2 linked regions of the Homo sapiens genome follow. The protein of the gene in region 1 binds, or shares a complex with, the protein of each later gene. Each region holds a gene or a part of one and is shown on either strand. Other genes may lie near its edges. The genes, in order: PAIP2 and PABPC1.

Region 1 (10,126 bases):
TAATAGGAAAATTCGAAACATCACAGAGCAATTAGATCCCAGCTACTTTCGTAACTACCAACTCTACTTATATTGACTTCCTGCCTTTTTTTTTTTTTTTCTTTGAGATGGGGTCTGGCAATGAATGACACAATCATAGTTCACTGCAGCCTCGAACTCCTGGACTCAAGTGATTCACCTACCTCCACCTCTCAAGTAGCTAGGGCTACAGCCATGCACTGCCATGCCCAGCTAATTTTTGTAGGGGGTGTGTGTGTGTCTGTGTGTAGAAGATGCGGTCTTGCTATGTTGCTCAGGCTGGTCTCAAATCCATGGGCTCAAGAGATGCCCCTACCTTGGCCTCCCAATGCGCTGGGATTATAGGCATAAGTCATCATGCCTGGCACTTTTTACTTTTTTTCCTACACTTGCATAAACCCTAGTTTGTTGGTGGTGGTTTTGTTTTTAGTTTGTTTTTGAGAGGGGTTCTCGCTCTGACACCCAGGCTGGGGTGCAATGCCGTGATAGCCCACTGCAACCTCCGCCTCCCAGTTTTGAGTGACTCTCCTGCCTCAGCCTCCCCAGTAGCTGTGACTACAGGTGTGCAACCACACCTGGCTAATTTTTATTTTTGTACTTTTAGAAGAGACAGGGGTCTCATCATGTTGGCCAGGCTGGTCTCAAACTGACAAGTGATTCGCCCACCTCGGCCTCCCAAAGTGCTAGGATTACAGGCGCGAGCCAGTGTACCTGGCCCACCCCCACCTTTTTTTTTAGAGACAGCGTCACCGCCTTACCAGGTTGGGGTGCAGTGGCACACTAGTAGCTCATGGCAGCCTTGAACTCCTGGGCTCAAGCAAGCCTCCTGCCTCAGCCTACGAGTAACTGGGACTTATAAGAATGTGCCACCACACTTAGCTATTTTTTTACATTCTTTCTGAACACAGAGTTTTGGTAAGTTTCCCAGGCTGGTTTTGAACTCCTGGCCTCAAGCATTCCTTCTGCCTCGGCCTCCCAAAGTGCTGGGATTATAGGTGTGAGCCACAGAACCCAGCCTATGCCCTATTTGAATAGGGAAACCTGCTTTATGGTGTGATAGCCTGTGGAAAGGGACTGCAGTTTAAGTGATGATTGGTGTGAAGGATAGTGAGACTTTCATGATAACTCCTAGTTCATTTTCCTGATTTTGGCTGCTTCTGCTGAAACTCCAAGTGTATCTCTGGCCCATGTTATTTTAAAAGGCAAGCTTCTAGAGAGGTGAACATGGGGAGAACATGGAAACAACAACAAAAAAAGCTGAGCTGCTCCTGGCTAACATGGTGAAACCCCGTCTCTACTAAAAATACAAAAAAATTAGACGGGCGTAAAAAAAAGACTCCGTCTCAAAAAAAAAAAAAAAAAGGCTGAGCTGCACAAAGTCAGCAGGGAACGGTTTTCCCAGCTGGAAAAGAGGAATTGCTTCTGCCTTTCCAGTTATTCAGCACGTCTGTAGGCACACATGATGATTCTGCAAAAACGTTTACCTATTCTACACCTACACATTTTCCAAATCCTGCTCATGCTGCATATTCAAACTACACAAGTTTGGCTCTTTTTTTTTTTTTTTTTTTTTTTTTTTTGAGACGGAGTCTTTCTCTGTCGCCCAGGTTGGAGTGCAGTGGCGCGATCTCGGCTCACTGCAAGCTCCGCCTCCCGGGTTCACGCCATTCTCCTGCCTCAGCCTCCCGAGTATCTGGGACTACAGGCGCCCGCCACCACGCCCGGCTAATTTTTTGTATTTTTAGTAGAAACTGGGTTTCACTGTATTAGCCAGGATGGTCTCGATCTTCTGACCTCGTGATCCACCCACCTCGGCCTCCCAAAGTGCTGGGATTACAGGCATGAGCCACCGCGCCCACCCGAAGAATATTTTACTTTTTTTTTTTTTTTTGAGACGGAGTCTTGCTCTGTCACCCAGGCTGGAGTGCAGTGGCGAGATCTCAGCTCACTGCAACCTCTGCCTCCTAGATTCAAGCGATTCTCCTGCCTCAGCCTCCTGAGTAGCTAAGGTAACAGGTGCATGCCACCACACCTGGCTAATTTTTTGTATTTTTAGTAGAAACTGGGTTTCACTGTATTAGCCAGGATGGTCTCAATCTCTTGACCTCGTGATCCACCTGCCTCGGCCTCCCAAAGTGCTGAGATTACAAGCGTGAGCCACCGCGCCTGGCCAAGTTTGGCTCTTTAAGGCCAGGTGAGTTTTAAACTTCACTAAACAACTTTTTTAGGAAAACCCACCACTTACTGTCTGTGTATCCTTAGTGCCTAGATCAGTGCAGGCATAAGTAGGCATTTTAAAAGTTGAATAATACTTGATCCCCTCACCTTCTCATTCAGAGCAGGGACCTTTGCTTACCCTGCAGTGTTAGGCCCTTACTCAACCCTACATACCTACGCTAGCTAGCTACATTCTCTGCCTACCTTGATACAAAGGAGCATAGGAACCATTACTGAAGCACTATAGGAACCTATGTAAGAGTTCATTTTGGGGGGGTGTGTTTTCTTGTTTATAAATGCAATATGCAATTCAAGCTTTCCTAGAGAATTTAGACAATATTTTTAAAATTCAGAAAATATTGACTCCTTTGAAATCTGACCACCAGGAAGGCCGGGCACGGTGGCTCACGCATGTAATCCCAGCACCTTGGGGGGCCGAGGCAGGCGGATCACGAGGTCAGGAGTTCAAGCCTTGCCAACATGGTGAAACCCCGTCTCTACTAAAAATACAAAAATTAGCTGGGCATGGTGGTGCGCGCCTGCAGTCTCAGCTACTTGGGAGGCTGAGGCAGGAGAATCACTTGAACTGGGACCTGGGAAGCAGAGATTGCAGTGAGCCGAGATCGTGCCACTGCACTCCAGCCTGGCCTACAGAGCGAGACTCCATCTCAAAAAAAAAAAAAAAAAAAAAAAAAAAAAAAGAAATCTGACCACCCAGAAATACTGCTATTAACATTTTGATGACCATTCTATCAGATACTTGGCATTTATACCTACTCGTGCCTGTTTACATATAAAATTTTGAAAGATTTTACAAACATGCTGTTTTGCAACCTGCTCTTTTAAAAAGCATTGATATATTCTATATCAATGAATATACATATTTTAAATAACTATTTTAATGCATCATTATTCATTTAACCAATTTCCTGTTGATAGGCATTTTGATCTTTTGGGTTTTATAACCAGGCTATAAATATTCTTACATGTCTCTCTTTACATCTGTCCATTTGGGTAGATTCCTATATTTGGAATGTTTGGGTAAGAAGGTACATACTTTTTACATTATTGATGAGAAATGAGGGGTCTGTAGGAAGGTGGTAATTTACAGTGGGGGCCTACTCATAGCCATCCTGGGCCTTCTGATTTCTACTTCAACCTCCATCTTAAGATGGTTACTATGTGAACCAGATAGGTAAATTTTTGCAGTGTTTTAAAACTGGATCTCTCTGTTGGTCCCATTGCAGTGTCTCTCCTTACCATTAGCAAACTTGTTAGCCTTCATTATTTTGTTTTCCATGTATAGATCATCACCATCACTATCCAAGTATAATATTGCTACATTGAAGTTTATTTTGCATGTGAGCAGAGTGTCCTTATGTCTAGAGAATGCCAAGGAAATACTGGGCCCCTGACGCTTAGCCACTGTGGTGAACTCTCAGTGCGATCTGGAAATTGAGATCTTAACCCCTTTGTGTGGGAAAAACAGCATTGGCCTTTGAGTGTTTCACATGATTTATCAAATATTTTTTATTACCATTATAACCAGTTAAGTGGCTTGTGTTACTAAATAACAAATTCAATTATCTCATGTTTACCTTTTTGTTTATTTGTTTGTTTTAAGACAGAGTCTCACTCTGTCACCCAGGCTGGAATGCAATGGCATGCTCTGGGCTCACCGCAACCTCCTCCTCCCGGGTTCAAGCGATTCTCCTGCCTCAGCCTCGCGGGTAGCTGAGACTACAGGCATGTGCCACCACATCCGGCTAATTTTTGTATTTTTATTAGAGATAGGGTTTCACCATGTTGGCCAGGCTGGTCTCAAACTCCTGACCTCATGATCTGCCCGCCTCAGCCTCCCAAAGTGCTGGGATTACAGGTGTGAGCCACCGCACCTGGCCTCATGCTTACCTTTTAAGAGAGTCTGGGTTAGGCCAGGCCCTGTGGCTCACGGCTGTAATCCCAGCACCTTGGGAAGCTGAAGCGGGCAGATCATTTGAGCCCAGGAGTTCAAGACCAGCCTGGGCAATATGGCAAAACCTCATTTCTACAAAAAATTCAAAAATTAGCCAGGCATGGTGGTACACACCTGTGGTCTCAGCTACTTTGCAAGCTGAGGTTTGAGGATTGCTTGAGCCAGGGAGGTTGCGGCTGTAGTGAACCGTGATCATGCCACTGCACTCCAGCCTGGGTGATGGAAGACTGTGTCTTAAAAAGAGAGTCTGAGTCATCTCAGACTATATAAATACCTATTTTGTTATGTTCAGACTTCCTTCAGCCTCAGATTGATAGCTTATCTTCACAGTTTAGAATATAGATCTGTAAGTGCTGCCAAGGTGGTTGACCCAGGAGCTAGGGCAGAACCATCTGCATTCATTTCTTTGGGGCTTTGGACTGGCCCAGAAGAGTATTCAGTGAATGAAATAGCTCTGAAGAGGAACAACCCGGTTTCTAAATTCAAGCCTTCCCATGGAGGGAATTTTTTGTCTTAGTAAATACTACAAGCATATAGTTTTTAAAAGATTCAAATTTTTCAGGAGAAAAGGATAGTTATTTGCACCCATTTCCTAGTCGGTCATTTGCCCTCTCCAAAGGGAAGAAATTAGTTTGTGTCCCTTTTTCAAAGATAGTATCTACACATTTGAACATCCAGATTTGTAAAACACATACTCTCGGCCGGGTGCGGTGGCTCACACCTGTAATCCTAGCACTTTGAGAGGCGGAGGCGGGTGGATCACGAGGTCAGGAGATCGAGACCATCCTGGCCAACACGGTGAAACCCCTATCTCTACTAAAAGTACAAAAATTGGCCGGGTGTGCTGGCGTGCGCCTGTAGTCCCAGCTACTTGGGAGGCTGTGGCAGGAGAATCTCTTGAACCCGGGAGGCGGAGGTTGCAGTGAGCCGAGATGGCGCCACTGCACTCCAGCCTGGGCAAGAGAGCCAGACTCCGCCTCAAAAAAACAAAACAAAACAAAAAAACAAAAACATACTCTCTTCTTTACATTGCTTAGTGTCACTAGAAATATATCTTGGGGCTTGTCAACGATGACAGGAAGGAAGCATGGGTAAGAATAACTATGGGGCCAGTGCACCCAGGATCACGGACTACAAAATTCTTGAACCCGGAGGTCACACTTTTCTATCCTGTGTGGACAGGGCATTTCCTCCTTTAGCCACAAAGAAGTTGCACATGTATTTGTATTTTGCGTTTGCATCCAGCTTCAAAAAGTGTGTTTTTGTGCCTGCACATGTCTGAGTGCGGATGTTTGCATATCATTTAGTACGCCTCTGTGATTTCCCTTAGTTTATTATTTTTCTGTGTCAGGATCTTGACGTGACTCGGTGCATGTCGCTGTTTGTGTGACATTGTGTATCATTCTTGGGGTGTGTATGGGTATGTGTGTGCTATGTCATTACCTAAATATTACGTTTTTGGGGGGGTGTGTGATGTCTGTGAAAGTCCACGCCTGTGTATCTTGTCAGGGTGCTCTTCAGTCCCCAGCTGCCTCACTCATTGCATATCATCATTCTCGGAAGATGGGCGGGTGTGGGAACAGTGGTACGCCCCCATTCCTGCCTTCCAGAGAGAACGTGCGACAGCGTTCCTGCTACACCCGGCAGCCGGCCGTAGGGGCGCGCTGGAAAGGCTGCTGCGCGTGCACACGTGTGCAGCCTTGGAGACAGACTTCGGGGTCGCGCGTTCTCGCGCGCGCTCTCTAGTGGCTTCGGAGGGCAGAGCTGACAGAACAAGAGGGCGGGGTTGGCGGCGACGGAAGTGAAGTCACTTCCGGGCTGGGGTGTTTGTTTGGACTGGAGAAGGGAGGCGGCGGGCGAAGCGCACGTCGAGCGGGGGAGCGGCGCTGCCTGTGGAGATCCGCGGAGGCCGACAGGATTCGTTGGCTGCCGTCCCCGCTGCTGTGCATTGGGTGAGGGGTCCTCTCGGGCAGAGTGGCGACAGGGGTGCGGAGGTCGAGGGACAGCAAGTCGGCGACGGCAGAGGGGCCTAAAGGGTTCCCTGGGTGGTTGGCCACCGAGTCCATTGCGGCCTCCGTTGTTCATTGCCTCTTTCCACCAAGTCTGAGGGATGAGCTTGGGCCGACTTCGTCTCTGTCTTCTCCGAGACATGGCCGTCGCTTTTTTTTCATTGTCATTATTAATGATTTGGATCTCGCAGCTCTCTATCCGGGTCCTCAGTGGCGCGAGGGTTGCCGGGATAGCACTTTCTCCTGTTCCTCATTCTCCCGGTCCTTTATCCCTCCGCCGGGTACCCTTTCCCCTGCCCCCCTCCCACCGCCTCGGCAACAAAGCTTATTGTTTCTACCCACTTTACGCCTGCGCGTCGCCACGCGCAGCCCCTACTTGCTGCGCGTGCGCGCCTCAGCCGAGGCTGGGGTTTGGGGAGAGAGGGGCGGAGGGACTGGCGGGCTCTTGGCGTCTTGGGGGAACGCTGCAACCGTCGACGGGCCTGATCAGAAGATCGTCTTTCTCCCGTTTCTTCGCCATCGCTACCCCTTATTTTTGGTTGTATTGCAGCTCATGCCCTGGAAAAAAGAACCTTTGGGGTACTGGGAACCCTTACCCTAGGAGGGCGTTGAGTTAGATGAACTTTAAGGTCCTCTTACCTTTTAATAATTTTCTGTGCTTACTCTCCTCCTTCCCCACCATCGCCACCAGAAATAAATAAGGCTTGTGGTGAACTTAGGTCTTCAAAACATTTGTTGCAGCAGCCAGCAGTGATATTTTTTAGGGACTCCTAAAAGGGGTCTTACCTGCTTCCTTTTGTTTCTTTTTTCCCTGATTTGGCACCCGTATCAACTCATAAAAACCCCAAACTCTAGAAAGAATTTGGCTTCCAATTTGCCTTGGAAGGTGTAGCAGCTGACAGCCTTTGACGTTTATTTCAACGGAAAGTAGATGTTCATGTTGGGTGTGCTGGCTAATGTTGAAACGTGGTGGCATTGTTTTTTCACAGATTTCATTAGCACAGTTAGATCAGGTGTTGGTTTATATTTTCATTAAGTCGCTTTTGAAATTTCTTCTGGCGTAGGTTGTGTTTGCAATAAGTAAAAGTTCTCTACAATAATTTTTAATGAGACTCCACTATTTGCTTTTGTGATTCTGTTTCCAGTTAGTGAAAGACAGGATATTTGGGGAAAATTAGTCTGTTTATACTACTTGTCAGTTGTGAACTTGAATAAAACTTTTTCACACACACACAAAATCACAGGATAGGTAACTTGACAAGAACTATAGAACCCACTTGTGTTTCTTTAAGGGATGGAGGTTAGGGAATGGAGATTTCCTCTAATGATTCAAGGCTGTGCACGTTGCTCCTTAGGAACTCAAATTGAGGTAGGTAATTTCACCCTCTTTTGGTCAGAATGAGTTTATAGCAGGCTTTTCCTTAAATAAGCACTCTGCACTTTATTCAGGTTTATCACTTTATGACTCTAGAGTGTGATGCTCCAGTTTTAGTGAAAAACTTGAACACTTAGCACAGCAATTTGGTTGATACTGTGGGAGATTAAAGAATGTGGAAGGCAAGACCTCTGCCCCCTTGTAATCTAATAACCTTTTGTGCTTTTAAAACATTTTCTTGTAATTTACATCCTATTGTCATTCATTATCATGAAACGTGAAATGGGCAGAGCAAGTTTTTTTTTTTTTTTTTTTTTGAGATGGAGTCTCACTCTGTCGCCAGGCTGGAGTGCTGGAGTGCAGTGGCGCAATTGGCTCACTGCAACCTCCGCCTCCCCGGGTTCAAGCGATTCTCCTGCCTCCGCCTCCCTAGTAGCTGGGACTACAGGCGCTTGCCACCACGCCGGCTAATTTTTTGTATTTTTAGTAGAGACAGGGTTTCACCGTGTTAGCCAGGATGGTCTCGATCTCCTGACTTTGTGATCCGCCCCCGTCGGCCTCCCAACAGAGCAAGTTTTATCTTGCCCATTTGGGAATTAAAGAAATAGAAGCCTGAAAGATTATTTTTATTTAGCAAATATTTATATAACAATAATGCCAGGCATTGTTCTCATTGCCTTTACAAATATTAACTAATTTGATCCACAACATAGCTAGAAGGTAGGCCCTACTGTAAAATGAAGATAACAAATGAGACGTGAAGTAACTTTCCCAATGTCACAGAGCTATGATAGTCGGAATTCAAATCCAGATAGTCCAGAGATTCTATGCTCTTAACCATTATGTGGTGCTGTGTGATTTAGTGACAGGTCTAGGGTACTTTAAGGTGGCTATGTAGCATAGCTGGGATTTGAACCTACGTCTTCTGACTGTGGTCTAAGATTAAAGTTGTCCAAGTCATTGCCTTTGTGATCTAGACCACCTGTTGCACAGGTGCATGAATAGTTTGCATTTGATATAGGCTAAGGTTCAGTTCCAAAAAACTCCCTTTTTTCTTAATTTTTTCATTGTTTAGAGTGGTGCTGTCCAATGATGTAGGTACTGTGTGTGGTTATGAGCACTTGAGATGTGGCTAGTGTAAATGAAGAACTAAATTTTAATTAAATAGATCTGTGTAGCCGATGGCCACCATATTGGATGGGCACACGTTTGGAGAATTTGAATAGCCTCTGCTTCTTATATCAGTTTGTATAAATTTGGGTGGCATTTCTAATGTACTTGAGCTTTTATCAGTTAGGATGACCCATTCTTGCTCTCACCTAATTACCCTTGTTACACTACAGTTGAGATTAGGGTAGACTTTGGGATTTTCTTGTGACATTGTTTCACCTCTGTAGATTTAAGATCTCTAATTTTTACCTTGTCCCTTGGTCTAGAGACCTTTAACTGCCCTAAATATTTAATCACCGAGATAGTTAATGCCAATTGTTATGTGCTAGGTTCTCTAACTAGGTACTATTATTAATTCCCATGCAACAGATGAGGAAACCGAGACTCAGGTTAAGTAACTTGCCATGGTCACACAGTTAGTAAAGCAGCCTGGTTCCAGAGCCCATGGGTTTTTGTTGTTGTTGTTGTTGTTGTTGTTTTTGAAACGGAGTCTTGCTCTGTTGCCCAGGCTGGAGTGCAGTGGCGCGATCTCGGCTCACTGCACGCTCCACCTCCAGGGTTCATGCCATTCTTCTGCCTCAGCCTCCTGAGTAGCTGCACCCGACACCACACCTGGCTACTTTTGTTTTTGTATTTTTAATAGAGACGGGGTTTCACCGTGTTAGCCAGGATGGTCTCGATCTCCTGACCTCGTGATCCAACGGCCTTGGCCTCCCAAAGTGCTGGGATTACAGGTGTGAGCCACCGCGCCCAGCCCAGAGCCCATGTTTTTTAATCGTTACCTTACTGTGCCAAATAGTAAAACAAAAAATTCGGTGCTTTTCACAGACTTCAGAGTGGAAAACAGACCAATTGAAAAATGTTGCGATCCTCTTTAACTGCCAAAGGAAGTATGCTTAAACGTATATATGCGTAAAATACGATTAAAAAATATGCAAATAAGGTAAGGATCACAGTGGTTCAAAACAGAGTCCAAGGGAATGAGAAAAGATGGTGCCTATGGAGGTAGATTAATGAAAGAAACAGAAGAGAACTATGCTTGAATTTTTTTTTTTTTTTTTTTGAAACGGAGTCTTGCTCTGTTGCCCAGGCCTGAGTGCAGTGGCATGATCTCATTTCACTGCAAGCTCCACCTCCCGGGTTCATGCCATTCTCTTGCCTCAGCCTCCTGAGTAGCTGGGACTACAGACGCTTGCCACCATGCCTGGCTAATTTTTTGTATTTTTAGGAGAGATGGGGTTTCACCGTGTTAGCCAGGATGGTCTCAATCTCCTGACCTTGTGATCCGCCCACCTCGGCCTCCCAAAGTGCTGGGATTACAGGCGTGAGCCACCGCACCAGGCCTATATTTGAATTTTAATG
Region 2 (10,021 bases), on another chromosome or scaffold:
AGTATACCTACCTGGGGCATAGAAGGCTGGGAGGGAGGAGTCAAGTTACGGAGCTTTGAAATTTTTTTCATGGCTTTGTATGTTGAAATTTGAAATGTATAACGTGAATGTTGTATGGAATATCTTTGATTTATGTAAAAAAATTTTTTAGGGCCTGCCTTAAGTGTGAAAGTAATGACTGATGAAAGTGGAAAATCCAAAGGATTTGGATTTGTAAGCTTTGAAAGGCATGAAGATGCACAGAAAGTAAGTGGTCTGTATTCAGCAGGAAGAAGGGGGTACAAAGTTGAGTTGCTCTTGTGTTGAAGTCTATGTGCATACTAATAGCTATTTGACATGTTCTTATATTTTCAGTTATTTGCATTTTATGCATTAGGTTTGAGAGTATAAATTGGTAACCTATATTGTCCCAAAACCTTGAGATTTTGGGATGGGTTTGTCTTTAGCTTTTGTGACTTAACAAATTTGTCTTAACTGTTAAGGAAATGAACTGTAAGTTGAAAGTTTTGTGATTTTTTTTTTTTCTTTTTTTTTGGGGGGAAGGCTGTGGATGAGATGAACGGAAAGGAGCTCAATGGAAAACAAATTTATGTTGGTCGAGCTCAGAAAAAGGTGGAACGGCAGACGGAACTTAAGCGCAAATTTGAACAGATGAAACAAGATAGGATCACCAGATACCAGGTTCATTTTTAATTGAACAACCAAAATAAGACAGGGATGAGGAAACCTATTTTACGTTGATTTCAGTTACTTCCAGGTAGCTGGAGGGTTTGAGAGGGGAATAGGAGAAGAAATATGGGGTAAAATAATAGACCCGATGTACTTAGGTACCACCATGGTTTTCTTTTTCTATAGTTTTCTTTTCTTCTTTTTAGGGTGTTAATCTTTATGTGAAAAATCTTGATGATGGTATTGATGATGAACGTCTCCGGAAAGAGTTTTCTCCATTTGGTACAATCACTAGTGCAAAGGTAAGAAAACATATGGTTCATTTATTTGAGGTCTAGTAAAAATTCATACATGTAGATATATGTATATAAATTTTGTATTATTATAGCCACTAGAGAGGTGTTTGCTTCGTTACTTCTAAAACTTAAATTCACATTTGAACTGGTTGTCATAGCCTAATGGTTAACTTAAAAATGGCAAGCACTGAACTCTTTGCTAAGGAAGGCTGATATCCTCACATGATATGCACTATTCCAACAACTAGTCATTTTGCTAAAGCAAGCAATTTATTAGGGACTTATAATTGTTACTATAGTTCTGATCTGTTTATTCATTTCTACAATTCATTCTGGGTAGTCAAGCCCCAGTTCCCTCCCCTGCCCCCTAGCAGTAAGAATAGAGATCATATTTTCTTTTATTTGAAATCAGAGATTAAGAAACAAAGCAGTAGTATTCTAGTACAAATTCTGAAATCTTGATTTAAGAAGTTCTCTTCTAGATGTTTTTGTCTAGCATCCGTGGGCCAAGAGTCCCCCTATATGCAAGGTTTTGTGCATACATAATTTTGCTGGGGTTGGGGAAGAGTGCATAGAAAAAAATTACAACTCAACTGAACTGGAATGACGCTGTGGCTGATCTTTCTAGTCAGCTTTTCCTGGCAAGTCCGAGGAAGCTTCTGTGAGAGTGAGGAAATGTTAGGGGAAAGGTGGTTGAATACAAGTAAGATGGAAGTGCCATGGTTGTCTTGTGTTTCAGATTATGCTTTTTATGTAAGAGTATTGGAGTACGATAGAATTTATTCCTGAATGTTTTTGTCTTCAGTGTGTTCCCTGGATATTGTTTAAATTGAGTGTTGTGCATCAGCATATTTTGAATGTATGAAGCATGCATGTTTTTCTGTTTCTTGAGACAGGATCTCATTATGTTGCCCAGGTTGGAGTGCAGGGGCATGCCACAATCACAGCTCACTGCAGCCTCAGCCTTTCCTGGGCTTAAGCCAAGCTTGTCCAACCCGCTGCTTGCAGGCCACATGCGGCCCAAGAATGCTTTTAATGCAGTGCAACACAAATTCTTAAACTTATGAGGTGTTTTTTTTTTGTCTTTTTTAAAGACGAGTCTCACTCTCGCCTGGGCTGGAGTGCGGTGGTGCAATCTCAGCTCACTGCAGCCTCCGCCTCCCGGGTTCAAGCGATTCTCCTGCCTCAGCCTCCTGGGTAGCTGGGATTACAGGCATGTGCCACTACGCCCAGCTAATTTTTGGTATTTTTAGTAGAGATGGGGTTTCACCATGTTGGCCAAGCTGGTCTTCCAACTCCTGACCTCAGGTGACCTCCTAAAGTGTTGGGATTACAGGCGTGAGCCACCGTGCCTGGCTGGTTGTCTGTCTTTTTATTGATTAAGGGAACATTTGTTTTATTTTTTTGAGATGGAGTGAAGTGGTGTGATCTCAGTTCACTGCAACTTCCACCCCCTGGGTTCAAGCAGTTTTCCTGTCTCAGCTTCCCGAGTAGCTGGGATTATATGCACCTGCCACCATGCCCGGCTAATTTTTGTATTTTTAGTAAAGACGGGGTTTCGCCACGTTGGCCAGGCTGGTCTCGAACTCCTGACTTCAGGTGATCCACCCGCCTTGGCCTCCCAAAGTGCTAGGATTACAGGCGTGAGCCACCGCGCCCGGCCAAACATTTGTTTTATATTGGAAATATTTTCTTCGAATTTTCCACTTTATAGACCTCACTTTGTGTGTGTGTCATCTTAGAAAGGTTTTCTCTCTATTTCTACATTCTATGTTCAGATTCAGAATCTACCTGGCATTTAAGATTTTTCAATGTAATGTGAATTAAGAGTTCTACATTTTTTCATTTGTCCCAGTGTGTCATGTATTGAGTAGCCCAAAGTCCTTTTTCCCCAGTACTTTAAAATGTTAACTTTAGCACAGTGAATTCCCATAATTGCTTGGGTATATTTCTGGCCTCTGTTTTATTACCGTTTGTTCCTATGCCACTCGCATACTGTTAATGTAGTTTTATAGCATGCTTATATATATTGCTGGCCTAGCGAGTGGTTCTTTGCAAGTCTTCATTGCTCATTTAAAAGGTCTTTGCAATCAATTTTAGAAGAACCTTCCTCTTGAGTGTTCTTTATACCGTAATATTTATGGATCCTCTGCTCTTGAATGTAAAAACTTTTATTTTAAGATGTGGGTATTGTAAGATTCAACTACTTTTTTCTCAAAGGCATAGTGAAGCATCTTGTCAGCTTGAATTGTTAGAATAGTCAAAATTTAATTGGGAAATGCTTCCAGTGGTGCCCAAAAGTCAATTTAGTAGGCCTGGGATGTATTTATTTAGATAATTAAATTTCAATATTGAAAATCCAATCAAATTCAGTATCTAAAATCTTTAAAAGTTTCTGTGCAGCCTTCACTTCTGTCAGTTCTCTGACCTGGCTAGGGTAATGCATATGTGTAGTTTGCCCTTAATAATTGGGTATTAAGGAAAAATTGTGAACTCAATGGGTAAATACAAGATGATTAAGCATTAACAGGGTTTAGTTATTTGATTCAGTGATTTATAATTGTCTAAATTGTAACGCTCTTTTTTTGCTCCTCATTCTACCATTACGTTAACTTTTTTTTTCTTTTTTTTAATAGGTTATGATGGAGGGTGGTCGCAGCAAAGGGTTTGGTTTTGTATGTTTCTCCTCCCCAGAAGAAGCCACTAAAGCAGTTACAGAAATGAACGGTAGAATTGTGGCCACAAAGCCATTGTATGTAGCTTTAGCTCAGCGCAAAGAAGAGCGCCAGGCTCACCTCACTAACCAGTATATGCAGAGAATGGCAAGTGTACGAGCTGTTCCCAACCCTGTAATCAACCCCTACCAGCCAGCACCTCCTTCAGGTTACTTCATGGCAGCTATCCCACAGGTAGGTTTTAGAAGGCAACCAGAACCATGAAGGTTTTCGTATTTGGTCATTTCTAGTGTTTTTTGTGCCCCTCGCCCCGCAAATGTGAAACATTAAGAAAGGGGAATTATGATTGAGTAGGAAAAAATGCTTGAGTGTGAAGTCCTGGTAAATGTTTTGAAAAAGTACATATAATTTATTGCATTATTTGCTTTTTTCTTCAACTGATAAACTCATGTGCTTTTTTTCCCTGCAGACTCAGAACCGTGCTGCATACTATCCTCCTAGCCAAATTGCTCAACTAAGACCAAGTCCTCGCTGGACTGCTCAGGGTGCCAGACCTCATCGTAAGTCTTTTTTCTTTTAATTAAGGTTGGGGATTGAGTTAAAAATAACACATTGGGTAAATCAGCTCTTCTATGTCAATGTTAGGTTAACTATTGCATTTCACATAATTTGTGGTTATGGATGTTCATTTTTATAGCATTTAAAAGCAGTGCTAAGATAGTAATGTCTACAGTGGTTTGATTTCCCTTTATAAAAGTTTTGGGAATAGGTACAGCTCTTCATTTTTTATTTATTTATTTATTTATTTATTTTCGAGACAGAGTCTCGCTCTGTTGCCCCAGGCTCGAGTGCAGTGGCTCAGTTTCGGCTCACTGCAACCTCCACCTCCCAGGTTCAAGCGATTTCTCCCTGCCTCAGCCTCTGGAGTAGCTGGGATTACAGGTGCCCGCCACCACGCCCAGCTAACTTACGCATTATTAGTAGAGATGGGGTTTGACCACGTTGGCCAGGGTTGTCTTGAGCTCCTGATCTCAGGTCATCTGCCCACCTCAGCCTCCTAAAGTGTTGAGAGTACAGGCGTGAGCCATGGCACCCAGCCAATTTCATATTTTGTCAGGCCACAGTTTTAAAGGTCTCGTTCCATTTAATCATGTATGAGAATCAGAGTCGTGGTATTTTATGTCTTGTCCTGTGGAACAGTATGTTATATTCCAAGAGCACTTAGAGTTTATTTTTTTAGACAGAGTCTCACTCTTTCTTCTAGTCTGGAGTGCAGTGGCATGGTCTTGGCTTACTGCAGCTTTCACCTCCCGGGTTCAGGTGATCCTCCTGCCTCAGCCTCCCAAGTAGCTGGGACTACAGGCACACGCCACCACGCCCAGCTAATTTTTTAAATTTTTTGTAGAGACGGGATTTTGCCCTGTTGGCCAGGCTGGGAGCACTTAGAATTTTATCATGATTATGTTTCAGGTATATTTATAAGTGTGGGCGGCAAACCACCCAGGTGCCAAGGCAAGAGACCGAGGACACGAGCTGTTCCAATATAATAAAATATAAAATAAGAATAGTTATACCAGATATAGATCTTAGATATGATTATATATGAATATCATTAATCATTAGTTTGTAGCAATTACTCTTTATTCCAATATCATAATAATCCTCACTCTATAATCATAACCTAGGAAAAACCAGGCCATACAGAGATAGGAGCTGAGGGGACATAGTGAGAAGTGACCAGAAGACAAGAGTGCGAGCCTTCTGTTATGCCCAGACAGGGCCACCAAAGGGCTCCTTGGTCTAGTGGTAACGCCAGCGTCTGGGAAGACGCCCGTTGCCAGGCGGACCGAGGTCTAGCAGTAGCGTAAGTGTCAAAGGAAAACACCCACTATTTAGCAGACCGGGAAAGGGAGTCTGCTTTTCCCCTGGGGAGTTTAGAGAAGACTGCTCCTCCACCTCTTGTGGAGGGCCTGACATCAGTCAGGCTTGCCTGCAATTATCCAGAGGCCTAACCGTCTCCCTATGGTGCTGTGCTTCAGTGGTCACGCTCCTAGTCTGCCTTCATGTTCCATCCTGTACACCTGGCTCTGCCTTCTAGATAGCAGTAGTAAATTAGTGAAAGTACTAAAAGTCTCTAATATGCAGAAACAATGGCGTAAGCTGTCTTTCTCTCTGTCTCCTCTCCCTCTCTGCCTCGGCTGCCAGGCGGGGAAGGGCCCCCTCTCCAGTGGACACGTAACCCACGTGACCTTACCTATCATTGGAGATGACTCACACTCTTTACCCTGCCCCTTGTGTTTTGTTTCCAATAAATAACAGTGCAGCCAGACATTCAGGGCCACTACTGGTCTCCGCGTCTTGGTGGTAGTGGTCCCCCGTGCCCAGCTGTCTTTTTTTTTTAAATCTCTGTGTCTCGTGTCTTTATTTCTGCACTCTCTCGTCGCTGCATACAGGGAGAAGCCCACCGACCCTGTGGGGCTGGTCGCTACATATAAGTACTCGTCCTTGTATGAATTAATGTTTTTACTTATTGATGCTCTGAGTCTGGGAAAATGGCAAGTGTTAAGACTCAGCTTTAAAAAGTTTTGTCACTTTTTAGTCTTTTATGCAAACCTCAGATCGAAGAAGACAGCATAAACACTTTTCACTCAGTAAGTTTTCCCAGTTAATGTATATTCACATCTTTAAAATGCAGCATTCCAAAATATGCCCGGTGCTATCCGCCCAGCTGCTCCTAGACCACCATTTAGTACTATGAGACCAGCTTCTTCACAGGTTCCACGAGTCATGTCAACACAGCGTGTTGGTGAGTCTTAATCCTTCCTTTAAAAATTGATCACCAATTTGAAAGAGCAAGATAAAAATACAAAATGTTCTTATTTTTTAGCTAACACATCAACACAGACAATGGGTCCACGTCCTGCAGCTGCAGCCGCTGCAGCTACTCCTGCTGTCCGCACCGTTCCACAGTATAAATATGCTGCAGGAGTTCGCAATCCTCAGCAACATCTTAATGCACAGCCACAAGTTACAATGCAACAGGTATGGATTTAATGATTTCTTAATAAAAATCACATTTCTTGGGTGAAATCAAAGGTGTGAAGACAGCTGGGCACAGTGGCTCACACCTATAACCCCAGCACTTTGGGAGGTTGAGGCAGGCAGATTGCTTGAGACCAGGAGTTTGGGACCAGCCTGGGCAACATACAGGACCCTGTCTCCACAAAGAAAACTAGCTGGGTGTGGTGGCATAAGCCTGTAGTCCTAGCTGCTAGGAAGGCTGAGGCAGGAGGATTGCTCGAGCCCAGGAGTTTAAGGCTGCAGCAAGCTGTAATCCCTGCTGGGTGACAGCAAGACTCTGTCTCAAAAGAAAAAATGTGAAGACAGCTGCATGATAGATTCTTGAGAGCTTAGCCTATCTGGAACATTCTGCTAATATGATAGTATGTAAAATGTCTTACGCTTTTGGAATTGGACAAGCAGCGAGAAATTCACATCCTAAATCACCACGCCTGGTCTGAAACAACTATTACAAGTAGCTATGGGCCAGGCGTGGTGGCTCACACCTCTATGTAATCCCAGCACTTCAGGAGGCCAAGGCAGGTGGATCACTTGAGGTCAGGAGTTTGAGACCAGCCTGGTCAACAGGGTGAAACCCCAGCTCTAAAAATATAAAGATTAGCCAGGCTTGGTGGCACATGCCTGTAATCCCAGCTACTGGGGAGGCTGAGGCAGGAAAGTTGCTTGAATCCGGAGGCGGAGGTTGCAGCGAGCCAAGATTGTGCCGTTGCATTCCAGCCTGGGCGACAAAGTGAGACTCCATCTCAAAAAGAAAAAAAATGTATCTGTGATACATAGTATATAATAACTACTTTGGCTTCTTTCTAATTCGCTCACTCAACTTCTCCACCTCATGTTTCGATGGAAGTCTACCACTTCAGCAGATGTCCATTGATGACTATTTGTATTTGCCATCTTTTTCTGTGCTTTAAACTTAAGAGTTCTCATTTTCTGTCTAGCCTGCTGTTCATGTACAAGGTCAGGAACCTTTGACTGCTTCCATGTTGGCATCTGCCCCTCCTCAAGAGCAAAAGCAAATGTTGGGTGAGTACTTCTGTCCCACCTTGTCAGTTCAGAAAGACTAGAAAATATAGGAATCACTTAGGCACTAGGTCAATCAATTGACAGCTAGGGCAGTGGAATTGATCTGAATTGGCATGAATGATTATGATAGTACAGTTGGTCTGCCTAATTAAAACCACTGGAAAGCCAATAAGAAAATGTATTGTTAGTAATAAATAGGGTAGTAGGGCATTACTCACCATGGGCCCTCACTACATTTTTGAGAGAAGGAATTTGAAGCAAATGAGAAGAAAACTTGTGACTTTGCCTGAACACCGATTTAACAACCTAATGGTAACATTGCTTAATTGGCAAGCTGATAATATCAAGAGTTAATTGCCTTGTGGCAGATTTTATTCTGTCTTCCCATGAAGACATAATGAAATTGTGGATTATGGGTTATTATATACGTGAGACAGAAGTATGGTTCTTAAACCCCAGTTTAATGTGGTAATTCAATGCAGTTAAAAACTTTTTTTTATTGAAGGGAGTTTTTGAATGTTTCTGTTCCTAGGTGAACGGCTGTTTCCTCTTATTCAAGCCATGCACCCTACTCTTGCTGGTAAAATCACTGGCATGTTGTTGGAGATTGATAATTCAGAACTTCTTCATATGCTCGAGTCTCCAGAGTCACTCCGTTCTAAGGTGATTTAAATTTATTTACCAAGTTGCCTCTTACACAGTTATTACGTGGCTTTTTATGGGGACTTAATTGTACAGAACACTTACATCGTGTTATATATAAGCCATGTACAGTTGTAAAGTCTGCATAATAACCTGTGGCGCTATTTATCCCCATTTTATAGATAGGTAAACTGAAACAGGCTGAATAATTTGCCAAATGCTCACACAGCTCTTAAGTGGCAGAGCCTGGCTTCAAATCCCATCAGCTCCAACAGCCATACTCTCAACTGCTGCTGCTTTCTCTAGTGGAGAAAGAGAAATATTTTTCGAGTGTGGGGAGGACAAGGAAAGAGTAGTGCAGGGGAGCGATTCATAATTCTAGAATAGTGGTGTAATAGAACTCAAAATTGAATGGATATAGTTGTTTAGTGTAACAATTTATACTTTCATTTGAGGGAAGAAACTTATCTTTGTTGGGAATTGGTATGTTACCATTATGAAACTCTTTATTTCCATTCCTTTCCTGAACCAGTTTATCTGTTTTCCCCTTTTTTAGGTTGATGAAGCTGTAGCTGTACTACAAGCCCACCAAGCTAAAGAGGCTGCCCAGAAAGCAGTTAACAGTGCCACCGGTGTTCCAACTGTTTAAAGTGAGCTTTTCCCTCTGGTTTGTTGTTTTAAGCTTGTTTTCTTCATCTTTTATAAAGTTTGTTGAGCATATTTTGAAATGTACATAGCAAAAGATCATTTTACAGTTCATTTAAATGTATTGCTAATTTTTCAAGGAAAAGTGGAACTAACTATAGAGGAATTAAAGGAATTTTACCCGTTAACTGTTGGATTTTTAAAATCCCAGGACTTTCAGGTGGTGTTTTTTTTTTTTTTTTTTTTTGAGATGGAGTTTCGTTCTGTCGCCCAACCTGGAGTGCATTGACGCGATCTCGGCTCACTGCAACCTCCACCTCCCAGGTTCAAGCAATTCTCCTGCCTCGGCCTCCCGAGCAGCTGGGATTAACAGGCCCATGCCTGCCACCGTGCCCAGCTAATTTTTGTATTTTTACTAGACTTGGGGTTTTGCCATGTTGGCCAGGCTGGTCTGGAACTTCTGACCTCAAGTGATCCGCCCACCTCGGCCTCCCAAAGTCTTGAAATTACAGGCGTGAGCCACTGCGCCCTGCCAGATTTTGTATAGTAATATATATATAAAATGACCTGTCACAGGTTGGCTTTCATAGTTTTACCTTTCCTTTTTGGGTGGTGCCCTTGGGTCTCTACTACTGTCTTTCATCACTCCCAAGAAATTGAGTAGTGCAGCCAGGATCAGGACCAGGGATTGGCAAATGTTTTTTGTAAAGGGCCAGATAGGAAATATTTTGGGCTTTGAGGACTGTGTTATCTCTGAAATGATCTTGTTCCAGTGTTACCATGTCAAGACAACCATAGATAGTATGTATACAAATGAACAGGTATGGCTGTGTTCCAGTAAAACTATGGATAAAAACAACCACATTGCATTTGGCTAAGGGCTTTAATTTGCTACTGACAAGTGATAGTCCTGGTCTTAATTTGTTTTTTTAACATTTACAGATTGATCAGGGACCATGAAAAGAAACTTGTGCTTCACCGAAGAAAAAT

Evidence for each region.
Region 2: the proteins of PAIP2 (region 1) and PABPC1 are in contact, whole or in part, in an NMR structure (PDB 1JGN), measured with the Homo sapiens proteins. Residues at the interface, in NP_001028284.1 of Homo sapiens: Val107, Ser109, Asn110, Leu111, Asn112, Asn114, Ala115, Lys116, Glu117, Phe118, Pro120, Gly121, Val122, Lys123, Tyr124, Gly125, Asn126; in NP_001425211.1 of Homo sapiens: Gln558, Lys559, Gln560, Met561, Gly563, Glu564, Lys580, Thr582, Gly583, Met584, Leu585, Leu586, Glu587, Ile588, Asp589, Asn590, Lys606, Glu609, Ala610, Val613, His617.

What each region holds. Positions count from the first base shown.
Region 1 is NC_000005.10:139,335,819-139,345,944, forward strand, and holds the start of PAIP2 (polyadenylate-binding protein-interacting protein 2), read left to right. Parts: upstream 1-6,035; 5' UTR 6,036-6,162; exon of another isoform or gene 6,163-7,588; intron 7,589-10,126. UniProt on the Homo sapiens protein: Acts as a repressor in the regulation of translation initiation of poly(A)-containing mRNAs. Its inhibitory activity on translation is mediated via its action on PABPC1.
Region 2 is NC_000008.11:100,703,312-100,713,332, reverse strand, and holds part of PABPC1 (polyadenylate-binding protein 1), read left to right. Parts: intron 1-151; coding exon 152-246; intron 247-543; coding exon 544-681; intron 682-875; coding exon 876-971; intron 972-3,601; coding exon 3,602-3,874; intron 3,875-4,109; coding exon 4,110-4,200; intron 4,201-6,335; coding exon 6,336-6,446; intron 6,447-6,527; coding exon 6,528-6,682; intron 6,683-7,659; coding exon 7,660-7,744; intron 7,745-8,276; coding exon 8,277-8,407; intron 8,408-8,942; coding exon 8,943-9,035; 3' UTR 9,036-9,036; exon of another isoform or gene 9,037-9,973; 3' UTR 9,974-10,021. UniProt on the Homo sapiens protein: Binds the poly(A) tail of mRNA, including that of its own transcript, and regulates processes of mRNA metabolism such as pre-mRNA splicing and mRNA stability.